2 linked regions of the Homo sapiens genome follow. The protein of the gene in region 2 purifies or fractionates together with the protein of the main gene of each other region. This does not show direct contact. Each region holds a gene or a part of one and is shown on either strand. Other genes may lie near its edges.

Evidence for each region. The genes of interacting proteins can lie anywhere in the genome.
Region 1: the proteins of ZNF736 (region 2) and DNAJC10 purify together in Homo sapiens (co-immunoprecipitation; one large-scale study listed by IntAct). This does not show direct contact.

The regions. Positions count from the first base shown.
Region 1 is NC_000002.12:182,791,971-182,794,982, reverse strand, and holds the end of DNAJC10 (dnaJ homolog subfamily C member 10 isoform 1 precursor), read right to left. Parts: 3' UTR 519-3,012; downstream 1-518. UniProt on the Homo sapiens protein: Endoplasmic reticulum disulfide reductase involved both in the correct folding of proteins and degradation of misfolded proteins.
Region 2 is NC_000007.14:64,330,877-64,334,534, reverse strand, and holds part of ZNF736 (zinc finger protein 736), read right to left. Parts: intron 1-3,658. UniProt on the Homo sapiens protein: May be involved in transcriptional regulation.

The DNA.
Region 1 (3,012 bases), on a different chromosome or scaffold from region 2:
CCCCTCACCTTGACTTTGACCGGATGGCCCTTCCATACTCTAGAGCTGCTGCTGCCAGTTTAACATCTATACTGGTTAATTTCATACATTCAAACACCTTACTTCATTTTCTTATCCATCTGCTGTAGCAATGTCACAAACTGGAAACCCCAGGCTGGATATGGTATTGTTTGACCCTCATATATTTAAATGTTTTAAGTAGTTGTGAACATTTGAAATATTTTACATAAAAACCCGGATTGGGGTAAATTCTGGGTAAACTGGAACATCTGGGTCTCTTTCTTCATGACAATACTCTTTTGGAGCAGAGAAACTACTGCCTTTTTAAAATAGTGCATGCACTAACTACCGTCATGTACTTTACCTACAAAACACCCTTAACTATGTGAGTTTGCAATGCCTGACTACAGCCTCACTTCACTCTGGAAGATAAGGACATTCGTACTTCTACCCGTCCTTAACCTGGGTCAGTGTATATAATTATTTTTATGTTGTTAAGCTGAAAATTGGTGACACAATTTGCATTTTTGTGACAAGTTTATTTCACTTCTACATGTTATAAAAAAACATAGCTCACTGCAAAGACAAACAGTAGAATCAAATCTAGAATGACATTTCTTACTCTGTAAGTTTAATGTGGTCATCATGCAAAGGAGAGAATCTGAATGGATTATTTCTATCCTTCATCTATTGTTTCCTATGTACTCAAATTTTTCTGAGGTCCGCAAATACGCATCTGACTTATTGCCTCATTCTTTCTCCTCAGAGACTTCTTTCCCAAGCTCTCTGCTCTCTCGCCCCATCTGCCCCAGGTGATGTTTAGGCCTCCTACTTAGCTGCTGTCCTGTGGATTTGTTCACTGCTCTCTTGGGTTGGAGTCACTGTTTCTTGGATCCCCATGCATTGTTGTTTATGCCTTCATTTGGAGGAGGTGTTTCATCACCTAACCACCTAAAAATATATTTATCATCTGCCTGCTACTTGTTAGTCTGGGTAGGTATGAATAGAATCCTAGGTTAAAAATATTTTCCTCTCAGAATTTGGAAGGCTTTGCTCCAAAGTCTTCTAGAATACTTCAAGCTCCAATTACTTTCTAATTGTTATTTTTTTGTAGGTAGTGTGTGTGTGTGTGTGTGTGTGTGTGTGTGTGTGTGTGTGTGTGATGTGTTTCCTCTCTGGAAAATTTTAGGATTGCTAAATTAAATAAGCAAGAGGACCTTGGCCTGAGGCTGTCTCCAGACTTTGAGTTCCCATGTAATAAATTGCAACCTAATTTAGTACTTAAATAAACTGAAACCTAATTTAGGATTATATAGATATATTTTTGTAACAGATAGGTCACAGCCAATTGCATGCTGCCAACTTGCCTTATTTGGAGCAGACCATGTCCAAATAAGGCAAATGCCTATCTGTAACCAATCAAGCTATTTCTGTACTTAATTTTTGTTTTCTGTCTATGAATGTTCACTGCATACCTCGCAAAGCAGAGCTCTCTGAATGTCTTCTGGTTCTCAGTGCTGCCTGATGGATGAATTGTTCTTCACTCAAATAAAATGTTAAATATATTTTGCTGAAAGTTTCTCTTTTACCAGGATCTTCTTTTTGGTTCTGGAATTTCACAATTTCACTGTGAGTAGAAGTTGAAGTCCTTACAAAAGTTAGAAAGCTAAAGTCCTTACAAGTGACCTGCAAAGCCCTCTATGATCTGGCTCCCCACTTTCTCTCTCCCTCTAACTTCATCTTCTCTCCTGCTAGCTCACTCCATTCCAGCCACATGAGCCTCCCTGCTGTTCCTTGAACCTGCCAAGCATGCCTTGGAGCCTGTCCTCTGGCCTTTCTCTCTGTTCATATGCTCTACCCTCAGCCCATTTAGTGGCTACATTTTTTCCACCTCCTTCAATGGCATCTTCTCCAAGAGACCTGCCCTGTCCACCCTATTTAATACCGAAACTCTCCTGCTGCTGCCCCCACACTCCTAATCCCTCATACCCTGGTCTACCTTTTTCTTTATTTCACAGCACATCTTCTAACATACTTCTAACATACTTAACATTTGCTTATATTAATTGTTTATTGTCTATCTCCCCACTGCGAGAATAGAATCTTCATGAGGTCAATACATTTAATACACTATCTTAAATGCATAGAACAAAGCCTAGCACATTGTAAGTACTCAAATAAATGTTTGCTGAGTGACATGGGGCTCATGTTGAGCTCATGTAACTTCCTCATAAATGATTTCTATTCAGGAAGGCCAAAGGAAAGATGACAAGGAGGATTACGATGTTCCATTAGCGGAAGAATTGAGTCTAACTTCACACACTTCTCTTGCAGATAAACTGGTTTGAGGTTATAGGCCTCTAATTTATCAAGAAAGAAACTGGCATGCATTTAGATGGACTGCTTAAGCCAATAGGTCTGTAATCTGTGGGGAGCAAAGAGGTGTTCTTTCAAACAATGAGAGGTTAAACAATACATTTATCAGATGGGACTTTTGTGAACATTGAGGGACAAAACAGGAAGCTGAAAAGGAAACCAATCAATTCTACCAGGGTTTATAACAGCTGTAATGAAAAGCCTTGGGGAAGGAAAGAAATTGGAATATATCCTCTTCATTATTTTTTGTACCTCAAAATGTTATCCTGTTCCACAACCCTCAAAACCCCTCACAAAGATAACCAACTACTGTAATCCTCATTTAATAAACATAGACTTCAGATAGTGCATTTAATTCTAATGAAACTTGTGCAAGATTATAGCATGGAGATAAAAAAATAATTGTTCACTGATGGTATGCAAGCATTTGTGAGGATTACTTATAAATTGACTTGAGCATCTCTTTTTTCTTTAATTTACTCTTTGAACATGTATTGAGTGTCAAGATGATGGCATGAAAAGTGAACAAGATTGTGTCCTGGCTTTGAAAGTTCATGCACTCTAGGACAGGGAAACATACTAATCAACAGGACTGAACTTATAAGGTGTTTCAGGATCCAATTCTCTGATTCTCTA
Region 2 (3,658 bases):
TTTATGTTTGTTGGCTGCATAAATATCTTCTTTTGAGAAGTGTCTGTTTACATCCTTCACCCACTTTTTGATGGGATTGCTTTTTTCTTGTAAATTTATTTAAGTTCCTTGTAGATTCTGGGTATTTGCCCTTTGTCGGATGCATATATTGCAAAAATTTTCTCCCATTCTGTAGGCTGCCTGTTCACTGATGACAGTTTCTTTTGCTATGCAGAAGCTCTTTAGTTTAATTAGATCCCATTTGTCAATTTTGGCTTTTGTTGCCATTGCCTTTGGTGTTTTAGTCATGAAGTCTTTGCCCATGCCTATGTCCTAAATGGTATTACCTAGGTTTTCTTCTAGAGTTTTCATGGTTTTAGGTTTTACATTTAAGTCTTTAATCCATCTTGAGTTAATTTTTGTATAAGGTGTAAGGGAGGGTGGTCCAGTTTCTGTTTTCTGCATATGGCCAGCCAGTTTTCCAAGCACCATTTATTAAATAGGGAATCCATTCCCCATTGCTTATTTTTGTCAGGTTTGTCAAAGATAAGATGGTTGTATATGTGTGGTGTTATTTCTGAGGCCTCTGTTCTGTTACATTGGTCTATATACCGGTTTTGGTACCAGTACCATGCTGTTTTGGTTACTGTAGCCTTGTAGTATAGTTTCAAGTCAGGTAGCGTGATGCCTCCAGCTTTGCTCTTTTTGCTTAGGACTGTGTTGACTATATGGGCTCTTTTTTGGTTCCATATAAAATTTAAAGTATTTTTTCTAATTCTGCGAAGAAAATCAATGGTAGCCTGATGGGAATAGCATCGAATCTATAAATTACTTTGGGTAGTATTGCCATTTTCATGATATTGATTCTTCCTATCCATGAGCACGGATTTTTTTTTTCCATTTGTGTCCTCTTTTACTTCCTTGCTTTAGCATCCTAGAGAGGAAGTCTCTTCTATTTTTTATTCAGAACTTTCTGAGTTATCCTGGGCAATAAAGACCATTCTCATTAAATGTGCATTTTTATAAGCAGTTTTGCATAGATTTAATGGAAGCTAAACAGTACATGGTCTCCTTCTTCACTGATAACCAAAGACCTGATCCCATCTCAAACAGGAATCTTGGGTCTCCACACCCTTCCATGTTCGACAGCCACAGAAGAAACATTTGTAATGTTGCAGGTATAAATTCATGGTGACAATTTTTTCACGGCTTATTAAAAGCTGGGACGTAGGGAATAAGGAGAAGGCTCTGGTATATAAGGAAAAAGTATTTCTCAGAGCCCCTTGACTATCATGAGAATAAAAAGTGAAAAAGGAGTTAAACTGATAAGGCAAAACATCACAAGTAGCGTGTTGCGGGAAGTCAGGGACCCTGAATGGAGGGAGCAGCTGGAGCCACGGCAGAGGAACATGAATTGTGAAAACTTCTTGGACATTTATCAGTTCCCAAATAATACTTTTGTAATTTCTTATGCCTGTCTTTACTTTAATCTCTTAATCTGTTATCTTCGTAAGCTGAGGATGTATGTCACCTCAGGACCACTGTAATAATTGTGTTAACTGTACAAACTGATTGTAAAACATGTGTTTAAACAATATGAAATCATTGCACCTTGAAGAAGAACAGAATAACAGTGATTTTTAGGGAACAAGGGAAGACAACCATAAGGTCTGAGTACCTGCGGGGTCGGGCAAAAAGAGCCATATTTTTCTTCTTGCAGAGAGCCTATAAACAGGCATGCAAGTAGGAGAGATATTGCTAAATTCTTTTCCTAGCAAGGAATATTAATATTAATACCCTGGGAAAGGAATGCACTCCTGGGGGGAGGTCTATAAACGGCAGCTCTGGGAGTGTCTGTCTTGTGTGGTTGAGATAAGGACTGAGATACACCCTGGTCTCCTGCAGTACCCTCAGGCTTACTAGGGTGGGGAAAAACTCTGCCCGGGTAAATTTGTGGTCAGATGGGTTCTCTGCTCTTGAAACCTGTTTTCTGTTGTTTAAGATGTTTATCAAGACAATACGTGCACAGCTGAACCCAGACCCTTATCAGTTCTGTTTTGCCTTTTGTCCTGTTCCCTCAGAAGCATGTGATCTTCGTTCTGCTTTTTGCCCTTTGAAGCATGTGATCTTTGTACCTACTCCCTGTTTTACACCCCCTCCCCTTTTGAAACCCTTAATAAAAACTTGCTAGTCTGAGACTCAGGTGGGTATCACAGTCCTACCAATATGTGATGTCACCCCTGGTGGCCTAGTAAAATTCCTCTTTTTGTACCCTTTCTCTTTATTTCTCAGCCGGCCGACACTTATGGAAAATAGAAAGACTGGGGGCAGGTTCCCCGACAGTAGAGAAGTAAACATTTGCAAGTTCTACACACATGATATTTCAGAAGAAAAAGTTGGACAGTCTCTGACCTGAGACACATTCACCTCAGAATAAGCCATTTCTTTCTTTTTCTCCTTCTCTGTGATCCCTTCCCAGGTGTGATTATCTGCACAAATTACACCTGTTTCTTGAGAATATGCCTTTGAAGCATGAGCAAAACTCCCTCCCCTGAAACCACCACACCCACAGGCAGAAGGACCTAGAATTGCAGATAAAGACTGCCTTTGTTCTTTATCACAAGAGAGGTTCAGAACCAGTAAAATCCTACATAAAAACCAAAATGTGAGTTTCCCCTTTCCATCACTCAGTTGCCTTTCTCTGCCACAGATGCCAGAAATTTCTACTGCAGCAATGGGAATATGGGCCACACTGACCTGCCTCTACCAAATCCAAGCAGAGCAGTCTCTATGATCTTCATTTGGAACTAAAGCTAAACTCACCTCTCGTGAATGTATCTGAAAGCGCTCGTGATTGACCCCGGGCTCACCTTAGCCTCATATGTGGCACTTAATTCAAACAACATGGCTGCAAGGGAAGTGGAGCAAGATGACTAAATAGCACCCTCCAGCAATCATCCCCCAGATAAAACACCAAATAGAATGACTATCCAAATAAGAAGCATCTTCATAAGAGCAAAAAACTCTGGGGAGTGATCACAGGACCTAGTTTTAGCATCAAATCAAAGAGGCAGTGAAGAGGGTAAAAAAGAAAGCTGTTAATTGCCAACAGCAGCCCTCCTCCATTCCCTGGGAGTGCAGCTCAGCAGAGAGAGAAAATCCATGTGCTTACAGAAGGGAGAGTGCGGTGATTGTGAGACTGTGCAGTAAAACTCAGTGCTGCCTGTCATAGCAGAAAGCAGCATGGGGCAGAATTCAGCCAGAGCCTACAGAGGGAGCACTCAGACTAGCCCTAGTCAGAGAGGAATTGTCCATTTCAGTAATCAAAACCTGAGTTTCAGGTAGCCCCACCACCATAGGCTAAAGCACTCTGGGGTTCTAAATAAACTTGAAAGGCAGTCTAAGCCACTGGGACTGCAACTCCTGGGCAAATCCTGGTGCTTTGCTAGGCTCAGAGCCAGAAAACTTGAAGTGCATGTGACCTTGTGAGATGCCTACTGGGATGGCCAAGAAAGTGCCTGCATTATTACCCTTACCCTAGGCACAGGCAGTGCAGTTCACAGCTCCAGGAGAAAATCTTTCTTTCTACTTGAGGAAAGGGGAGAGAAGAGTTAATAAAAACTTTGTCCTGCAATTGGGACATCATCTCAGCCACAGTAGAATATGGCATCAGAAAAAG